Regions from separate parts of the Homo sapiens genome. Here all the other regions are reported to be linked to region 1. Evidence: microRNA targets listed by miRTarBase, many of them from high-throughput screens and not tested one by one. Region 1 holds a microRNA gene; each other region holds the end of a gene's coding sequence. Distances are from middle to middle.

Region 1 (7,096 bases):
ACAAAAAACTAAATGTTGTTTCTTGCTAAAGTAAAGGGAGAAAAATCTAATTGTCTGAGGCACATGGGTTAAATAGTTCTCTAAATGAGAACTTAGTCTACTTCCTTAGGCAGAAACATACTATTTCCTCTTTTTAATCTCTATTATGAAGAATCTAAGAATCCCTAGAAAACCAAATACTCTTCCCTTTCATCAGGTTCATCTGTACAAAGAGGTGTATAAAGGGATTTATTTAGAATTGCTCATCGATGCAAAATGCTGGTGACTCTTTTGTAAATATAAATATTATTTAATAGGGAAACAGTTTTATTCATCTCTATGTAATATGTATATCTATGTAATGAAATAAAATGTGGCTTTAAAAAGAGTAAACAAGATGCATATGTACTGACATGGAACGTCCTCTAAGATATCCTGATAAAGAAAGAAACAAGAAGCAAAATAATATATACATCTGTTACCATTTGTAGTTTAAAAATAGGAAGGGGAGTGGGGAGAGGTATACATATCTCTGGTAACCTGGGGAAGCAGAACCAAAGTATGTGGAAGGCAGAGGAGGAGAAATAATTTTTTCCTTATTATACAATCTTTTGTGCTGTTTAAATAGTGAAGCATGCTGCAATATTTCTTATTTAAATTACACAAATAAATCATTGAAAATGTAACCCATGTGTATAGCCTTGACGTTCTTCTGGTCCAAACACATACTTTCAAGACTTATCTTTTTCTTTTATCAGAGGCGTTTGAACCAGAGCAACTCCATCTTGAAAAGGGGCTGAGTACAATAAGGCTGAGCCCTACTGGGCTGCATTCCCAGGAGGATAAGGCATTCTTAGTCACAGAGATAGGAAGTTAGCACAAGATACAAGTCATAAAGACCTTGCTGATAAAACAGGTTTGCAGTAAAAAAGCCAGCCCAAACCCACCAAAGCCAAGGTGGGAATGAGAGTGACCTCTGGTCTTCCTCACTGCTGCAGTCCCGCCAGTGCCTGACAGTTTACAAATGCCACAGCAATGTCAGGAAGTTACCATATATGGTCTAAAAAAGGGGAATATTAATAATCCACCCCTTGTTTAGCATGTCATCAAGAAATAACCATAAAAATGGGAAACCAGCAGCCCTCGGAGCTGCTCTGCCTATGGAGTAGCCATTCTTTATTCCTTCACTTTCCTAATAAACTTGCTTTCACTTAACCCTATGGATTCACCTCAAATTCTTTCTTGCACAAGATCCAAGAACCCTCTCTTGGGTTCTGGATTGGGACCCCTTTCCGGTAACAGTTTTACTCTAGTATAAAGATGACACATACTGTTCAAAGCATCTTAAAGATCACCTGGTCAAACCACCTCATTTTAAGGAAGTACCTTCTAAAGGTACTTCCTCCAAGAGTGGAAGGTACTTGGCCAGGATTACACAACTTGTTAGTACCAATGTCCAGACTAGAGCCTCAAGCTTCTTAATTCTACAGAAGTGCTCTACTGTGGTGCCAGACCCCTATTGACTCCAGTAGGGAAGGCACCAATGCACCATGTCCAAGAGCCCAAAGAAGAGACCCAAGTGAATAAGATATAGACTTTATCAAGGACGTACATACAGGGCAGTCAGGGAGTGGTCGGATGGACAGGAAAAGTGCTACCACTTGTAAAGATCATGGAGTTTATATAAAAATGTTCATTTAACCCCCTCCACCTAGCAACCTCCACCTAGCAAACTCCATTTAACCCAAAACATAGGGCCTCAATCCTCTGCATGACCTGCATTCTAAGGGATGGGCCAGGGATTCATATGTTCTTCATAGAGAAGGAGTGAATCTCTGGGTTGGCCACTCCCGGATTCCTTAGCTCAGAACTCCTAACACACATTTTTCTTAGACGGTAGGTCATTCATAGGGTATGCTTGAGTTAATGCTCTCAGGTGTGTCTGCCATATATCTTCTCACCCTGCGGCCCTCTAGGAGAGGGAATAAACAGCCTTGACCGTGAGAGTGACTTTCTTCCCATTTCTCCTACCTGGTACTGCTTGCTAAGGCCCGTACCTCTGCACCTCATGTCCCAGGGCATCCTGCCTACACTTTAGGCATCAACTAACTAGAATAACAAAATAATAAAATGTCCTAACTTGGGCCTTCTTAATTTGAGGTATGTGAATGGGCTTCAGGAAATCCTGAATCTAATAAAAAGCTAAGGACTCTAGGGAGAGAGTTCAGTTTTCCATGAGCTTCACTGCCAAGTAAGACAAATAACACGTTTATGGATATATAAAAGAGACCTCAGAAGCCATCAAGCCATCAGATACTCAATTGTCCCTGACAACAACTTGCATTTTTTCCTTCTGTTAGAATTATATCCAAGTGCTGGAGAGTTGTCACCAACAACAGTAATATTCACTTGGACATTTAGCTCTAGTTTAAAGCACTGGAGAGAATTTGGTTTCCTGTAGTTGAATTTGCAGCGTTTAAAAAAAATATTAGCCTGCCTTATGATATTTTATAAGTATTTAGGAAGTAAAATTTTGGTTGAACAAAAGCCATAATTTATTTAACAAATATTTATATAGGGCTTACTATATGCTAGGCACTGTTTTAAATGCTTTATAATAATTAAGTCATTGAATTGTCAGAGAACTACCTATGAGGTAAGTGCTGTTCTTATATCCATTTCACAGGTGAGGAAACTGAGGCACAGACAGGTTGGGGAAGCAATCCAAATGAAGACATCAGAGGGTATTCACCCAGCAAGAGGCAGAACTAAGATCTAAATTCAGGCAGTCTGGATCCAGCATTTATGTTCCTAAACACATCTTTGCTCGCTTCCTGTTATGAGTGTGAAAAGAATATTCTGTTTCATAGAAGATGATCATCATCAGGTTTTACCACAAACCTTGCATTGGCTTTAGGAGTAAAACATAAATAGCTATATTTTTTCTAATTTCTTTATGTTAGTTCTAATAAACAATGTATTAAATACATATTTTTAGGGCATTACATGCATATTTAATTTGACCAAGCTGATATTATCGGGTTTCATACTCCTTTTTTGCATCAGTACACACATTCAATTTTATATTTGACTTTTTTTTTAATTGCACAGGGAGCCAATTGGCAGCTTTGGATCAAATTGGCTTACATATATGTTTTGGCCAGCATGACGTTTAAGAATTTATTTCCTTCCTTCCTTCCTTCCTTCCTCTCTTTGTTTCCTCCTTTCTTTCTTTTTTTCTTTGACAACATTTACAAATTGGGAAATTGACCATGAAAGTCTAAATTTCTGGCTTCTTTTTGAAAAGACAGAAGGAAGCATTGGGTTTGCATTCAGGCATGGAAATATTAGGCTGGACTGAGAAGTGGCTGACCTTTTAGATGAAGTTTGTGTTCCCCAGTTGGCCATAGTTTTTACCAGTTTGCTTTGCTTGATATCTGCATGCATTTGGGTTACGGCAGTTGAATGAGGTATGCATGTCCTTAGAGGCCAAGAAACAATTTACTTACTGACTGAGCTTTAGCATGAGAGAGCATAATGACATGTGAGTTACCGGTGAATCAATTACAAGAGGTACCCAAAGGTAAGCGTGCAGTTGAAAGTTTCATATACAAGTGGTTGTAAATAAATAGCCTATAACTAAAAAGTAAGAATCATGGTAATGGTTAAATGTTCATTGAATACATACTAAGCACAAGATTTCTTATAGGTATCAGTCCCTTTAACTCTTGTAACAAGCCTAGGAAGTAGAAAACTGAGACAGAGGCAAGCTAAGTAACTTGTGCAAGATCACCAGCTAATAAACAGCGCAGTTAGGACTTCAGTCAGGCAATCTGGTTCTGGAATCTGTGGCTTATATTATGCTATACTTTCTCTCTAAAAACTCTGAAAGAACTCTCTAGTACTGGCAGAGAATGGGATTTACTGGTTAATTCATATGATGGTTTGACAATTGCTGTGTGAATTATCAATTGTTAGGAGGTAAGACCAGTTGAGAACTTTAAGCAGTACTTCACTGGGGTTTGGCAAATTGGTAGAGAGACCTTGAATCTAGAATCTAGTGCTTGACTTTATAGGCCCAGAAACCATATTTCACCCATTTGTAAAAATCATAATATAAAATCACCAGTATGTTTGTAACCCAGAAGTACAAAAAGTGAATAAGGAATTTGAGATGCCATTATATACAGAGGTGAGTGGTAAGGTCTGGTTTACTGGCATCCTGGGAGCTCCTGGCCAGAGCAGAAGGTGAACATTGTCAAAATTGAAACAAGGGATCAAGAAAGCCAGGCCTGCCTCCAGGTTGAGGTAAATAGTTCAAATTATGAAGTTCAAGCAGCTACAGAATGATCTGTTCCAGGGGTTCAAAACTTTTTTGTGCATCAGACTCACCTGGGGGAAGTTATAAAAACAAACAAACATAGAAATGTTCTGCTTTATATTTTTAGACCTACTAAAGCACCTACCCTGGAGTTCTAGTGAGTTACTGAGCTAATTCTGTTGCTTCTGGCCCACTGATTGGTATTTGAGAAACACTGTTCTAGTTGGAATTTGCCTTTTGAGAACGTTAATGCATAGTATCAGATAGATACGAGAGTGATAGATTAAGATGATAGCTATGATTCCTGTATTAATTAATGCATGAAAGTGTTAGCCAGCTTATGGCATGACCCTCTCACCTGATTTCTACCAATCTCTCCCCAGAAAGAAATCAGCTGAGGAAAGGTTGGTAGAAATCAGGTGAGAGGGTCAAGTCATAAGCTGGCTGAGTTGGGGAGTAGGCAGGGGTCCAGTCCTGGGAGAATCAGTGCAGAAAGCAACTGAGGCAGTGCCAATGTTTAATGAGAGGCTTATAAAATTGCCACAAAGTGAGGCCCTAGCTACATGTCATGAGAACTCCCTGGCAGAGGGGAGAAAGCAAATTTGGATTAGAATGGGAGGTATCAGCTAGAAAATCAGAAATCTGACCAAATAATGATAAACATGATAGTTTATGAATTAGGAAGCAGGGAAGTGAAACCCTACCCCACAAATGATAGATTAGGAAAGATTTGAGATGAATAGTAGAAAAGATAGTGCATAAGGTCTCCTCTGCTCTCCCCAGAACTGAGGGATGATTAAAGTTAATAGCATTTGTTGGGTTCTACTTAATAAGTACAACTTTTTGGATTTATTAAACCAGTTGGCATTGGTTGTGTTATGCTATAACAAACTCCAAATCTCAGTGGCTAACAAGGAAGTTGACTTCTTGTTCTTCTGACAACCCATGTGTTGTCCCTGCTTTGGGTCCCAGGCTGATAGAATAGTCGCTATCAGGAGGATGCTACCATGGCAGGGACAAAGAGAGCTCAGAGGAAATCATGCCAAGAGATAAACATTCAACAGGAAAGTGGCATACATTGTTTGTGCTTTCAGTTCATTGGCCAGAATAGTTACATGGCCTCCACCAACCACTGGGAGCCATAGAGTGCTATGTGCCGGAGGGCAGAGAGCTGGGAATATTTAGTGAGCAGCATTCGGTACTACCATCTTTCCCTCTGAATAGGTTAACAGCCACAAGTCCTGTCACAATTTTTAGCAATTTCTTCAATGTCAAGAAGAATTATATTTCTTAGCTAACAGAGGTGGTGTAGTTTCAGGGTGCCTGCCTGGCCTATCTACAGCACTGTCAGCTCCATGCTCACCCTTGCTGAAGAGATGAGTCTCTCTGTTCAAGTTCGTCTAATGTCATAGCCTTTTCCCTGATTGGACCAGGGACCAACACCTATCCAGGTGGCTGTCAATCTGTTGGCTAGCCTGTAGGCAAATGTATTTTCTGAGACACAGAGTCTCTAGTCAAATGGATGTGGGCCTATGAAGTAAATGGGTCTGTAGACTTGGGCCCTGGGCATTTTGATCCTGTCTGTGGACAGTAGCCAATGATCATAGATGAGGAAGATTATATGCAGTTGAGACAAAGAGAGAGAAACTTCTATCTTCAGTGGTTCCCTGGATCTCAGCTCCTATTCCTGGGAGATTCACCTCTGCTTCATTTTTTGTGAAATGGCTTTATGGCCTTATAATAAATATTCATTTTATTTGAGCCACTTTATTATCCATATGAATAAATTGAGAAGCCTAGTCACTCTGCCTCTGCTGAGAGTATCATCTGTAAACCAGGACTGTAGAAATTCTGGGACTCGTGCTAGGGTGTATAGTTGGGAACTAACAAGAAAAACTTTCACTGTAAACCTACTTGAACTTTATTTTCTTATTTTCTGTATTCCTGATGCTCTGGCATCTTGGGCCTCACAGATCTGGAGGGATGGCCTCTCCCAGCATTAGTTAATTCCTGCAGATATCAAACAGTGTTACCTGGGAGGGTCTCTTTTATATGCAAACTAAGCAATTCAAAGCCTACTGTAACTAGCCCCCTACCTCTGTGGGACCCTTCCACTCCAGGCCAATAGTTTCTTGCCCTAATCAGCCCAGGGCGAGGTGCTAGACAATTCCAAACAGCTCCTACACCCCAGAGCCTGCTGAAATGATTCAACAAGACAATTCTAAACCTGCTTAGCCTATTTTCCTGCCTTGCCCATTCCTTTCCACAAAACTGCAGTAAAGGCGCTGACCCCTGCTTTTCCCCTGTGCCCCCTGCCTGGCTTCCACAAGCGACTTCCCTGCATTGCTGTGCCTCCTATTTCTAGGGAACTGTGAGTGCAAACACCTTCTTCCTTCATGACAGTCATTGTCAGGCTCACGTCTTACTATAAGTGATCAAAACAAACCCCAGTACATTTTAAAACAAAGCCTCTCTCTCTGTTTTCTTCTGGGCCTCAATCTTTGGGTACCTACTAGTTTATTTGTCAGAAGAGTAAAGACCCTCTGTTCTGGTAGGTGGTCCTCTCAGATGTCTAAATTATTAGCTGTCTAGTCTACTGCCACAGAACATATACAATAGAACAAAAAAAGTACTTTTTCCTCTTTAATCCTGTATTTATGATTATTATAATAAATTATCCTTATTTCTAAGCATATGTTTGGTAAAAAGTCAGTACTAATTGTCACAGGCACACTGTTTTACTGGACAAAGCTTGAAAACACATGGACACGTGCCTCCTCCAGACACTGTGCAAAC
Region 2 (7,120 bases), not on the chromosome of region 1:
CAGCCTGGTCCTTGGAGGCTGGGGGAGGGGACACCCCTGTTTCCAAGTGCTCCCGGGAGGCCAGGCTGTCAGAGCTGTACTAAAATGTAAGGTTTGCTCTTGAGAAGGCTCAAAGATCCCACTTCTCATGGGAAGCGTGGAGTCCCTGCAGGGGCCCCAACTCTCATCCAGGCCTGCGAGGTCAGAGGCCCTCTCACTGGTCCCCAGATTCGAGCTCCCGCCGTGCTTGCTGGGACTGCCAGATGTCCCTCCTGACTCCAGGGAAAGGAAGTTCCAGGCTCCTCTCCCCTCTGACCCCCATACCGTGGGTCCTGCCAGTTGCTAGTTGCTCTTCTATGTCTTCAGACGCTCCCCATCTTAAGATTCACTTTCTGCAGACCCCACCACCTCCTCAACCATTTTATCTAGCTGTGCCTCTGGATACGGGTGTGGGACCCCACTGACAGGCCAGGCCAGGGCCAGTGTGCATCACCATCCCCGTGCAGTGCCCTCCTTTAAGGCCCACTTTGGTTTCTGCTGCCCTCATTTCCTCTTCCCCTTCTGCCAGGACCTGAGCTCTTTCTCCTTCCCAGCATCATCGAACTTATTCCATCCACCTCCTCAACTCCCATTCCCTCTGCAAGTCTCAGTGATAAGAGTAGCCAATGTTGACTGAGTGAGTCCTTCATCGTCCGCATCAGTGATTCACTGAATCCACACAGTAACCTACAAGGCAGGAATCATTACCCTCTTTTTCAGATGAGCAAACTGAATCTTCCGAAGGTTCAGACTGCACATTGCAGAGCTGGACTGTGACCCACACTAAGTTTGGACCTGCCCCACCATGAGGCTAGAGCCATCTCTTCACAGTTCTCACTCGGGGGGCTGGGCTGGGGCCAATGGAAGCCTGAGAGAGGCCGTCTCTTCCTGGTCCCCCTCCCCACTGAAAGTGCTTCCTTGACTTGAAGTCGCCCGCTGTCCAGATGCTCCTCTCTCCCCTGCCCACAGGCTCAGTCCTCAACCCTCTTGTCCCTCGGCCACAGCGCTCACCCCCACACCTCCAATCATCATCTCTGGGTGGAGACTCATTTCCTCTCCTGCCCACTCAGTTTCCCAGCTGGCTGGTGGACATCTGCCCCCAGAGATGCTTGGACAACCCCAACCGAATGCGTTCCACATCCAAACTCCTGATTGCCACCCTCCCAAACCCCCTCCCTCTCTCGAGAGCCCCATCCTTGCGCCTCCTCGTTACACGGGCTCCACCTGCCAACACCAGCTCTGCCATTCTCCTCTCCCTCAGCCTCCACGAGCCATCATCGGGTCCTTCCCACTTCCTGCTTCCAATACCACTATTCTGGTTCTCCTTCCCAAGTGCTGAGCACAGGGACCTGGAGAGCACATGCTGAGACTGTTAGAATGAACTGCCATTTGCCTCAACCGTTCACTCATCCAACAGTTATTTATTGAACGCCATGGACCAGGTACCGTGCCCAGCAGCTGGGATGCAGCACTGAACACGAGACAAGCCCCTGCCCTGGAGGGGCTTACATCCCGGCAGGGTAAACAGCCAGTAACTTCAGAAACCAAACATCCAGTACGTCAGAGTGCCATGGGAAAGGTACGCTGAGCAAGGGCGGGCAGTGCCAGGGCTGGGGTGCCACTGTACAGGGTGATGGGGAGGCCCTCCTCCCTGGAGAGGGCGGCATGATCCTAGTGGGCCGAGGTCAACCGCCAGGGTCAAACGGAACACAACCCACTCTCAGGAAGACATCCCTAACACAAATCCAGGGACTTTGTTTCTTAACCTTAAAATTGGAAACACTTCTTGCTACCAGGGATGGGGGGTGGGGCTCAGCGTTTGGGGAACCGGAGTGGGAGTCTTTTGCTGAACAGACTTTTGTTTTCTTAAGTTTTGAACTACATGAATGTATTTCCTTTTTTGAAAGGAAAATTGAAATAGGAAAAAATTTTAAGTCTTTTGGAAAGAATTAATCATTTTCATGGAACTGCTTCCCTATAGGGGCCTGTTTTCGTATCTGCCAACTTCCACTGAAACACGCAGATGGAGAACCCTCCAGTGCTCCCGAGAAGGGAGACAGTCTTAACCCAGAGGACAGCATCCACCAGCCTGCAAGCACGGACCCCGTGCTGGTGTGTGAGTGCAGCACACACTGGGCTAACCATCACCACAGTGAGACTGGCACCCTCTGGGGTAGGGTAGACTCAGGAAGGTGAAAATCAGGATGTCTGCCAGGAGCTGACAAATCCCTCTGGGACTCTCATACTTCAGAGGCTCTCCAGTTTGGCTATTGCTAAACTTGGACTAGCCCCTACTACCGATCTTAATACCCATGTACCAATCATTGCTGCATCCTATTTGGAAAGCAATGGACAGACAGCCACGCTGAAAGCCCTTACTAGAGACTGGTCCACAAGATCAGATTTAGCTGCCCCTGGTTTGAGCCTTGCTCCCCTGGTGTCTTTTCTGGCGAAGCTGGGCCCAGAGAGCGTTTTACTAAGTGGGCTCCATGGTAGTGGAAGTGGTGGGGACAGAAGGCTGGCTCTATATGTGGCAGAGGCCTGAATAAACAGGGATTTGAGAGGGCTCAAGATATCCTGACTTAATCCTCAATGTGGCAGGCACAGGGCCATGGCCAGGCCTAGAGGAAGGTGGGCTGTTTGGGGTATGGCCCAGCAGGGCACGATGTGATCAGGTAGGGCGTAGGGAAATGGGTTACTGTCCTCTAAATATTCCATATATCACAAAGTTACTGACTGCGGTCTCCACAAATTCAGGCTGCCAGTCCGATGCACTATATCCCAACAATCTGAGCACTCTGTCAAAGATGCTCACAGAGACAACAGGAGCAGACAGAGCCTTGTTTCTCTCTTAATCTTCAGAGCCTAGAACTGAGCTTGGCCCTCACCAGGCACTTAGAAATTGCATAATGAAAGAATTTCAGATTTTTATTAGTGGCAGTGAGCACTGAAAACCCAGTATTTGGCCAGGTCCAGTGGCTCACACCTGTAATCCCAACATGTTTGGGAGGCCAAGGCGGGAGGATGGCTTGAGGTAAGGAGTTAGAGACCAGCCTGTGCAACATAGTGAGACCTTATTCTACTAAAAAAATAAAACTAGCCAGGAGTGGTGGTTGCGTGCCTGTGGTTCCAGCTACCTAGGAGGCTGAGGTGAGAGGATCACTTGACCCCGGGGCTTCGAGGCTGCAGTGAGCCATGATCACACCACTGCACTCCAGCCTGAGCCACAGTGTGAGACCCCCATCTCACAAAAAAAGGAAAGCCTAGTATTCTATACAACCTTAACCTATTTTTTTTTTTTTTTTTTTTGAGACGGAGTCTTGCTGTGTTGCCCAGGCTGGAGTGTAGTGGTGCGATCTTGGCTCACTGCAAGCTCTGCCTCCCGGGTTCATGCCATTCTCCTGCCGCAGCCTCCTGAGTAGCTGGGACTACAGGTGTCCACTACCACGGCTGGCCAATTTTTTGTATTTTTAGTAGAGATGGGTTTTCACTGTGTTAGCTAGGATGGTCTCGATCTCCTGACCTCGTGATCTGCCCGCCTCGGCCTCCCAAAGTGCTGGGATTACAGGCGTGAGCCACCGCACCTGGCCAACCTTAACCTATTTTTAAAAAAGATGTTTATGGCTTTGCTGATAGCAGGCTGGAAAGCTAGCTGAATTTGCAGGCAACCTCAAGTAGTTAATGAAAAATTATTGTGGCTTGTCCAAAGGGATTGAGTTTTCCAAATAAAAAAGTGGGCTTCAGTTTTATGTCATTGTAAGAGGCCATGTGAGGGATGTTTGGATGCTCGCTTTGAATCTGTAGGACCACTCAATGATTTTTTAAAACCATTGGTTTCTGGCAGGCAAAACATTCAAAATCTAGGCTATCCCAGGAAATCTAGCATAAGGGCTGTCCTGCAGTAATGCATTAAACCACGTAACAAACGAACTCAAGAAGAGGGATGTGGCTCTGGATTTGTGACCCTCAACATAACATTTACCACCTTGGGCTTCGGCTTCAACATCAGTTAAATGGAGGGACACAGACGACTCTTTGGCTCTTATACTCTATGACATGATCACTGGCCACCTTAGAAAATCAAGCCTATTTAGACCACGGTTTGTGAGAAGTCAGACTCTCTGAGGCTCAGTTTCCTTATCTATAAAAAAGAAGATGATAACATTGGGAGAAGCCATCTTAAGCAGCGAGGAAAGAAAAGGACAGTGGAGTCAAGTGAACAGTCTCAGATCTCAGCCCCGTGTAATCTAAGGGAAGGTTACTGGAGCTGGGTCTACTTTCGTCATCTGCAAAATGGGGATAAGAATGCCTGTTGTAAGGACAGTTGAATGATCTTGCTCATGCCAACTTACAGAAGGTACGAAATAAACGCCGATCTCCTTTATTCTGATCTCACATTCAGCAAATGTGAGAGAAATGTGAATGTACTGAAATGTCTGCCAGAAAAAAGAAAATCCAACCCCTCAAAAGAATGACATCAGGGGTTTTGATATCTATTCACCTACACTTCCCTCTTCCACAGGAAGCGGCCCACCTTCTGACCCACACTGCCCATCTCTGTGCTTATCATGGAGCTTTCAAGAGTGAGGATCGGAGGCTGTATTGAGCAGTGGGCACAAACCACAGGGAGCGCTGTTCAAAAATGGAAAACAAGGTGGCCCTGACACCGGGTGCTGCTGGGCACCCTCTCAGACCTGCCCTGCAACAGCATCAGGAGGCTGAGGGTCCCCAGCCAGAAGGCCCAAGAGGGGCCCAGGCTGGAAACTTTACTGCGAAGCAGCCCTCATCTTAAGGTGGCTCAACACCACACCTGAGATCTAGCCCATGCGACAGTATGGAAGCAGGAGGCCCTACTCCACCACAGAAAGAACATTTATGGGCGCCTAAGCCCTGGGAGAATGGCACCTGAGGGAACAGAGCGTGCCCACAAGCAGACCTTGGGGAGGGAGAAGAGGCAGCCCTGCTCCTAGTCGCAGCCAGCGTGCGTCATGTCCAGGCCCCACAAGGGTGACCCTGGCTCAGGTTCTCATGCTCCAGAAGCTGGCCCAGGTGGCAGTGGGTTCCCTATGGAGGCAGCTCATCATTCACAACACAGCAACAAACCTTCTGCTCTCATGAGGAGAATGTATTTTAAACTTGGGAAGAGTCATAATTCTGGGATGTTTCACATGTTGTCAGCTTTAACCTTCTACAGACACAGGCCCTCTCCTCTGTGAGGAGGGACCTCTGGCATGTGTGGGTGTGTGGTGGGTCCCTCTCCCTATTAGCAGAAATGTGTTGGGCATGAGCCAGGTTTATGATTTGGATTGTGTCCTGCACATAACACCTGTGAGAATACAACTGGGACTAGGACAATGCGGGAAGCATATTCTTCATGAGGCGGTAACCAAAAGGCTTGGCTATACCAAAGGATTCTGGTGGCCGGGCACGGTGGCTCACACCTGTAATGCCAGCACTTTGGGAGGCCAAGGCGGGTAGATCACTTGAGGTCCAGGAGTTCGAGCCCAGCCTGGCCAACATGGTGAAACCCTGTCTCTACTAAACATACAACAATTAGCTGGGCATGGTGGTGGGTGCCTGTAATCCCAGCTACTGGGGAGGCTGAGACAGGAGAAATGCTTGAACCCGGGAAGCAGAGGTTGCAGTGAGCCGAGATTGCACCACAGCACTCCAGCCTGGGTGACAGAGCAAGACTCCACCTCAAAAAAAAAAAACCACAAAAAAACACAAAAGGATTCTGGGTGTAACAATCTCAGTAGAGCCAGCGGGTGACTCTGGTTCTCCTAAAATTCTGCCCTTACTTGCCACTCACCACACCCCCAGATCTGAAGGGCCAGCCCTTTTCTACCTATGACACCTCACCAGCAAGTAAAGGGCACAGGACCTCAGAAGTCTGTGGTGCTAAGGATGAAGACTCTACTCAGAGAAGGTGCTCAGCCCTAGTGAGGAGGTTCTGGGAAGCAGGTGGGCCTGCTCAATGCAGTCCCTAACCCTTGGGAGCATCCATGTGAGAGGTAAAGGTGCAAATGACTTGGGCATGTTGACTCCCTACTGAGGAAGGCAGGGCCCCTCACATCTGCAGTGGCCGTATGCATCAGAGAACGGCATGACTGCACATGTGAGAACTGGGTGCACCCGAGCAGTGTCAATAGGAATCCCTTCCCTATTCCATGCCAAACAGTCTTCCCCAGACACAAAGTTTCCAGGTCCTGAGGCTTGACTCTTCTAAGGCTCAAAATGGGTTCTGTTTCCAGACGTGCTTGCCTTGCTTGTCTTTGCTTGTCTTAAGGACTCTATTTCAGGCCAATACTTGATCCTCAGACAAACTGGGACAGGTTGGGAACTTTGATGTTGAGATCGCCAATGTTGATGTTCCGAGGAATCTCTGGCAGGTTGATGTTTTTCACAGCAGACACAGCCCGCGCAGGGGCTGCTGAAAGGCCACCCTAAGAAGAAATGAGAGGCGAGTATGAGACAAATTCTCACTGTTATCTGCTTAATGCTAAAAAAAAAAAAAAAAAAAAAGCAAAAACAAAAACAAACAAGCAGGATGGGTGTGGTGGCTCACGCCTGTAATCCCAGCACTTTGGGAGGCCGAGGTGGGTGGATCACCTGAGGTCAGGAGTTCGAGATAGGCCTGGCCAACATGGTGAAACCCCATCTCTACCAAAAATACAAAAATTGGCCAGGAGTGGTGGCGGGCCCCTGTAGTCCCAGCTACTAGGGAGGCTGAGGCAGGAAAATCGCTTGAACTCAGAAGGCGGAGGTTGCGGTGAGCTGAGATCACGCCACTGCACTCCAACCTGGGCAACAGAGTGAGACTCTGTCTCAAACAAACAAACAAACAAAATAACAGGTGAAGGATGCCTAGAAAAATTCCAAACTGAGCACACACAACTGAAGTTTTAACTTTCCCCCCTTATTCCTCAAAAGTAGCCAACAAAACAATCTTGAGGTTAGATGGGGTTTGGCACAGGGATCCAAAGCCTGCAGTCCTACTAGACTACCAGCTCCTCAGAGGCGGAGTGTGGCCTATACAGTTTCACAGCCCCAGCCTCTCACAGTACCTGGCACATGGTGGGTACCCAATAAATGCTGAAAT
Region 3 (7,120 bases), 30 Mb from region 1:
CTCGGCTCACTGCAACCTCCACCTCCTGGCTTCAAGTGATTCTCCTGCCTCAGCCTCCTGAGTATCTGGGATTACAGGCACGTACCACCATACCTGGCTAATTTTTGTATTTTTAGCAGAGACGGGGTTTCACCATGTTTGTCACGCTGGTCTCGAAATCCTGACCTCATGATCCTCCCACCTCAGCCTCCCAAAGTGCTGGGATTAGGTATGTGATTTTGACAAATTTACTTAACCATTTTCTATTTCAGTTTTCCCCATTGTGAAATGGCGATGATACTTGGTGCGACCACAGGTAACTGTGTCAGTACACATAAGGCACATGAATGATATGTACCACATGCCAAGTGCTCCACAATGCCAGCTGTTATTTGAATGTATTTGAATGTATTTTGACTAACAGCAGATGTGCTAAATTTGGCTGTGATTAACAGCCATCGAATTAACCTTTCCCCTGGATTCTTCATACATATATGTCCTTGGAGGTAAACTTATTTGGAATGAGCAAATAGCAGTTGAAAATTGTAAAAAATTTCTACACTGATCTTGTATCTTGAAACTTTGCTGAACTGGTTTATTAGTTCTAATAGTTTTCTTGTGGATTCCTTAGGATTTTCAAGACCATGCCATCTGTTAACAAAAATATTTTAACTTCTTTCTTTGCGATTTGGATGCCTTTAACTTCCTTTTCTTGCTGTTTTTCCCTGCCTAGAACTTCCAGCACTATGTTTAACAAGAGTGGTGAGAGTGGCCACACTTCACTTGTTCCTGATCTTAGGGGGGAAGCATTCAGTCTTCCACCAATAAGTACAATGTTACCTGTGGATTTTTGTAGATGGCCTTTATCAAGTTGAAGGAGAGGAGTTTGATAGTTTGTTCTAGTTTGTTGAGTGAATCAAGAAAGAGTGTGGATCTTCATCAAATGCTTTTTCTGTGCCCAGCAAGATGATCATGTGGTTTTTGTCCTTTATTCTATTAATATCGTGTATTACATTGATGAATTTTTTTATGTTGAATCAATCTTCCATTCCTGAATAAACCCTACTTGGTCATGGTATCTATCCTTTTTATATGTTGCTAAATTTAGTTTGTTAGTATTTTATTGAGAATTTGTTTTTTCAAGTCAGATGCATAATGTGCCAATGTTGAAACAAGCTTCGAGGGTAGCACTCACACATCCACGTGAATGCCCAATCATCACATTCATGAACTACAAAAGGATCTTATTGAGGATTTTTGCGTCTATATTCAGAAGAGGTATTACAGGTTGAGTATCCCCAATCTGAAATCTGAATTCCAAAATGCTTTAAAATCCAAAATTATTTGAGTGCTGATGTGACACCACAAGAGGAAAGTTCCACACTTGGCCTCATATGGTGGGTCATAGTCAAAACGCACTCGAAACTTTGTTTCATCCACAGAGTTACTTAAAATATTGTGCAATTACCTTCAGGCTATGTATATAAGGTGTATATGAAACATAAATGAGTTGTGTTTAGGCTGGTGTCCCATCCCCAAGATATCTCATTATGTATGTGCAAATATTCCAAAAACTCCAAATCTGAAACGCTTCTGGTTCCAAGCATTTCCAATAGGGGATACTCACTATAATCTGTAGTTCCCTTATGGCGTCTTTGTTCAGCTTTGGTATCCAGATAATATCGATCTCATAAAATGAGTTCCCTCCTCTTTTGTTTTTTTTGGAAAAGTTTATGAAGGATTGGTGTTAATTCTTCTTTAAACATTTTGGTAGAATTTAGCAGTGAAGCCATCTGGGACTGGGCTTTTCTTTGTGGGAAGTTTTCAATTGTTAACTCAATCTCTGTGCTTGTTATAACTCTGTCTCAGTCTGTTTTTGTGTTGTTATAACAGAATACCTGAGACTGGGTAATTTATGAAGAGAGATTTATTTCTTACAGTTCTGAAGGCTGGGAAGTCTTCCAGTCTCAGACGGAAGATGGAGGGGCCACACCTGGCCAGGGCCTTCATGTTTCATCCTCCCATGGCAGAAGGAAGGGAGAGGAGGAGGTAAGAGAGAGAGAGAAAGATAGAGGTGGGGGTGGGGATAAAGATTTTGGGGAAGAAGAAGGCCGAACTCATCCTTTTATCAGGAACCCACTTCTGAGATAACTAACCCACTCCCACAATAATGGCATTAATCCATTCATGGGGGCTCTGCCTAGTAACCCTTAAAGGTCTCACCTCTCAAAGCTGTTGCTTTGGGGATTAAGTTTCCAACGCATGAGCTGTGGGGGACACATTCATACCATAGCAAGCTCTATTCACAACATCTATTTCTTGTGGAGTCAGATTTGGTATTCTGTGTCTTCCTAGGAATTTGTCCATTTCATTTATCTAATTTGTTGGCATTCAATTGTTCATAGTATTTCTTTCTAATAATTTTTATTTCTATAAGTTTGGTAATAAAATCTTGACTTTTGTTTCTGATTCTAGTAATTTGAGTCTTTTGAGGGGGTGGTCAATCTAGCTAAATGTTTGCCATTTTGTAGATCTTTTCAAAGAACCAGCTTTTGATTTCATAATTTTTTTTCTGTATTGCTTTTCTATTCTCTATTTCATTTATTTCTGTTCTAGGCTTTCCTTCTTTCTGCTTTCTTTGGACTGTTATTATCAATTATTGAGAATGTTCTATGAATATACCACATTATGACTATATATTAGTGAAGTTTTCTTAAGAATTTTAATTTTTGCTAAAATTTGCCTCATATATTTTTGGTATATGTTGTTAAGTATATTTAAGTTCAAAGTTATTATATATTTCAGGTTAGTTGTTCCTTTTGTTGTTGTCTAATATACTTCATTTCTAAAAAAACTGTTTTGGCCAGGTGAGGTAGCTCACACCTGTAATCTCAGCCCTTTGGGAGGCTGAGACGGGAGGATCACTTGAGCTCAGGAGTTTGAGGCCAGCCTGGGCAACATGGCAAAACCTGTCCCTACTAAAAATACAAAAATTAGCTGGGTGTGGTGGCGTACACCTGTAGTCCCAGCTACTTGGGAGGCTAAAGCAGGAGAATCATTTGACCCAGGAGGCGGAGGTTGCAGTGAGCCGAGATTGCACGGCCTGGGTGACAGAGCAAGACTCCATCTCAATAAAAAAGTTTTGCCTTGAAGTTTAATTTGACAGATATTGATAAAACTATGCCACTTCCTTCCTATGTAAAGCTACTTTTAAAAAATATGTATATAAGTATTTGAAGCTATAAATTTCCTTCTAAGCATTGATTTAGCTTCATCCCATGTTTTGGTTTGTTGTGCTTTTGTTTTTTTCAGTTAAAAGTGTTTTCCAATTTTACTCATGATTTCTTCTATTTATTTATTTATTGAGACAGTATCACTGTGTTGCTCAAGCTGGAGTGCAGTGGCACAGTCACAGCTCACTGCAGCCTCGACCTCTGTGGCTCAAGGGATGCTCTTACCTCAGCCTCTCGAGTAGCTGGGACCATGGGCTCTGGCCGTCATGCCCAGCTAATTTTTTATTTTTTGTAGACACAGGGTTTTGCCATGTTGCTCAGACTGTGATTACCTCTTTAACCACTGGTTATTTAGGAATGTGTTGTTTAATATCCACATATTTGTGAATTTCCCAAATTTTATTGATTTCTAATTTCGTTCCATCATGTTTGGAGAACACACTGCATAGTTTCAATCCTTGTGATTCTCCTGCCTCAGCCTCCCAAGTAGCTGGGACTACAGGTGTGTGCCACCATGCCCAGCTAATTTTTTTTTTTTTTTGTATTTTTAGTAGAGGCAGGATTTCACCATGTTGGCCAGGATGGTCTTGATCTCTTGACCTCGTGATCTGCCCGCCTTGGCCTCCCAACGTGCTGGGATTACAGGTGTGAGCCACTGCGCCTGGCCTATTCAAAACATTTTCTATGTCCTTTTTTAAGTTTTGAAGTTTTCTCCACAGAGGTATTAATTTTTTTGTGAATTTCTAGGTACTTTTACATTTTTCATTGAGAGGTACTTATCTTATGTTTCTTTTATTTTTTATTTTTTATTTTTTATTTTTTTTTTGAGACAGAGTCTTGCTCTGTTGTCCAGGCTGGAGTGCAGTGGTGCGACCTCAGCTCACTGCAACCTCCACCTCCCAGGTTCAAGCAATTCTCCTTCCTCAGCCTCCCGAGTAGCTGGGATTACAGGTGTGTGCCACCATGCCTGGCTTTTTTTTTTTTTTTTTTTTGTATTTTTAGTAGAGACGGGATTTCACCATGTTAGTCAGGCTGGTCTCAATCTCCTGACCTCGTGATCCGCCCGCCTCGGCCTCCCAAAGTGCTGGGATTACAGGCATGAGCCACCACCCCCAGCCCTTATGTTTCTTTATTACTGGTGTTCAGAAATGGTATTAATTTTGTAGGTTGATCATGTGGCTGGAAAATATGCTAACTTGTCATTCTAAAAGTTTGACTCTTTATTTTGTGAGTTTTGCAAGTTTATCATCTCACCTTCAAAAATCTGTTTTTATTTCTTCCTGTGATAGTTTTTACACCTCTTATTATGTCTGGACCATTGTACTATATATATATATATTATTTTTTCATTGTACTATATTAAAACTAGTGGTGACAGTAATTTCCCCTCAAATTAGGACTGAAAGTCTCATTTTAAAAAAACCCAAATTCAGCCTGGGCAACAAGGCGAAACCCCATCTCCACTAAAAATACAAAAATTAGCCAGACATGGTGGCGCATGTCTGTAGTCTCAGCTACTCAGAAGGCTGAGGTGGGAGGACTGTTTGAGCCCAGGAGGCAGAGGCTGCAGTGAGCCAAGATGGTGCCACTGCACTCCAGCCTGGGTGACAGAGTGCTGTCTACAAAAAACAAATAACAAACAAAAAATGAAAAATTGGAAACAAAATGTAAGTTTATAACTTTCTGTCATTAAAAGTGGATGATAGTGTACTCACTTCCACAACACATATACTAAAATCAGAATGATACAGAGAGAAAAGTGGATGATGGTTTCTTCGGTTTCCTTGAAAAAAAGTGTTTTTAAACTAGATAACCCAGCCGGGTGCGATGGTGCACTCCTGTATTCCTAGCACTTTGGGAGGCTGTGGCAGGTGGATGGCGTTAAGTCCAGGAGTTGGAGACCAGCCTGGGCAACATGGCAAAACCTCGTCTCTACAAAAAACACAAAAATTGGCCAGGCTCGGTGGCTCATGTCTGTAATCCCAGCACTTTGGGAGGTCAAGGCAGGCGGATCACTGGAGGTCAGGAGTTCAAGACCAGCCTGGGCAACGTGGTGAAACCCCGTCTCTACTAAAAATACAAAAGTTAGCCAGGCATGGTGGCACACGCCTGTAATCCCAGCTACTCAGGAGGCTGACACAGGAGAATCACTTGAACCCCAGGAGGTGGAGGTTGCACTGAGCTGAGATCCCGCCACTGCACTCCACCCTGGGTGACAGTGCGAGACTCAGTCTCAAAAAAAAAAAATTAGCCAGGTGTGGTGGCGAGCATCTGTAGTCCTAGCTACTCAGGAGGCTGAGGTGGGAGGATCACCTGAGCCCAGGAGGTCAAGGCTTTTGTGAGCCGTGACTGTACCACTGTATTCCAGCCTGGGTGACAGAATGAGAGCTAGTTTCAAAAAAATAAAAGTGGATAACCCCCAAAACCACTGTCCTACTTTTAGAAAATCCAAGATAGTTTTGGGAAGGGAATTTTGGAGTCTCATTGGCCATGAAAGGGACTAGGCAGGCTTCTCAGGGAGACTTGTGGGGCTGATTACGTAGTGCCCAGCTCTACTTGGAAAACTCTTTTTGCAACATTTACATGGAAATCAGAGACACAGACCCAGATGTTGGGTTAAAATGAGACAAAGGAAAAAAACAGTCATGTACAAGAGGCAAGAAGACCACTTTTCTAAATGATCTATATTTATTAGTACTCTGGTCAGAGAAATCCCAAGTCTACCATATTGGAGGTTTTCTGGAATTCCAGGCTATCTGTTAGACTGTAGGCTTCAAAGGCTTGGCTTGTCATATTGGGCCAGGTTTGTGCAGGAGATAGGCCTACAGCTGGACCAGCAAAGATGCTGAGAGAGGAACCCTGTCCTCCTACCTGGTACTTTGTGGGTGAGAGATACTGATACAGACAGTGGAAAGAAGAGCTGGATATCTCATTCTCATCAGGAAGATTGTACAGTTCTATGATTTGGAATATGTCATAGGCATCAGAGTACAAAGCAGGAACCGAGGCCACCAGCCTCTCCCACTGAGTATCTTGCATTTGGAAGTCACTGGTAGAACTCTCAGTGAAGGTAGAGTTCCATGCCCAATTGGAAGGGTCTAAGGGCTGAGATGGAAGGGAGCTGTAGAAATCTGAAATCACAGGAGAAAAAGCATAAGGACTGGGGGATGTTCTGGGGGAGGTGGGCACATTCTTCTTGGATGGAAGGATCTGGTTTCGTTGCTTTGCTGATTGCTGCTGCTGCTGCTTCTTCAATTTGAATCGCCGGTTCCTGAACCAAACCTGGGAGTAGGGGAAGAGGGGGAGATTGTGGTCTGTTATTGGAGGAGGCATTGGAGGATTCTCCTGAGTGAAAACAGCCAGGTTATAATCTTCATGTCCTCTCTAATTCACCATGACACTGGGCTCTGCAAAAGCAGAGATGGGCATGACTGGAGTCAGTAGGAGGGATGATGAAGATCAGGTCTGGGACCCCAGAAAGGAAGGAAGCGGGTGTGTTTCAGGGTTTGTGCTGGGTGTTCAGAGATAGGGTCCTGAACTCTAGAGAAGAGAGGCTAGTTTAGGGATCTAGGATCTAGGGAGAGGTGAAGAATTTGAACTGAAGGATTTTTAAGGATTATTTTAGGAGGCCTCTCCTATAAGGAATACTCCAGTAAAAATGTATGGCCAGTCACGGTGGCTCACACCTGTAATCCCAGCACTTTGAGAGTCTGAGGTGAGAGGATCACTTGAGCTCAGGAGTTTGAGACCAGCCTGGGCAACATAGTGAGACCCCATCTCTGAAAAAAAGAGAAAAAAGAAAAACGTCATGGGCTTTAGCAGACTCAGAGGTTAGAGGGAGTATTATTTGTCTGTTGGTAGCATTATGAATAAACAGATTGCAGGGCTTTGCTTAAAAAGACTCTAAG

The links. The annotated mature microRNA hsa-miR-5186 reads AGAGAUUGGUAGAAAUCAGGU and lies in region 1 at 4,657-4,677, opposite strand. An mRNA with a match to its seed (bases 2 to 7 or 8) in the 3' UTR can be bound and repressed. Matches are read on the target gene's strand: a 7mer-m8 pairs with bases 2 to 8, a 7mer-A1 pairs with bases 2 to 7 and ends in A, and an 8mer does both.
Region 2: miRTarBase lists AP3S2 as a target of hsa-miR-5186. Seed matches in the 3' UTR shown: 7mer-m8 at 5,670-5,676.
Region 3: the mRNA of ARGFX is a reported target of hsa-miR-5186. Seed matches in the 3' UTR shown: 7mer-m8 at 3,070-3,076.

What each region holds. Positions count from the first base shown.
Region 1 is chr3:151,561,248-151,568,343 of GRCh38, forward strand. It overlaps MIR5186 (microRNA 5186), which reads right to left and starts at 4,748; the gene lies at 4,629-4,748. The region is part of intron 1 of LINC02066 (long intergenic non-protein coding RNA 2066); the gene reads left to right. It also overlaps a transcript of IGSF10 not described here.
Region 2 is chr15:89,829,180-89,836,299 of GRCh38, forward strand. AP3S2 (adaptor related protein complex 3 subunit sigma 2) reads right to left here. Exons shown (of 6, transcript NM_005829.5): 6 at 1,420-6,464. The coding sequence ends at 6,336. ARPIN-AP3S2 (ARPIN-AP3S2 readthrough) reads right to left here. Exons shown (of 10, transcript NM_001199058.2): 10 at 1,420-6,464. The coding sequence ends at 6,336. It overlaps LOC124903552 (a long non-coding RNA gene), which reads left to right and starts at 6,730. Exons shown (of 2, transcript XR_007064754.1): 1 at 6,730-7,120.
Region 3 is chr3:121,585,396-121,592,515 of GRCh38, reverse strand. ARGFX (arginine-fifty homeobox) reads right to left here. Exons shown (of 5, transcript NM_001012659.2): 5 at 1,894-6,494. The coding sequence ends at 5,916. LOC124906360 (small nucleolar RNA U13) reads right to left here and starts at 1,222; the gene lies at 1,122-1,222.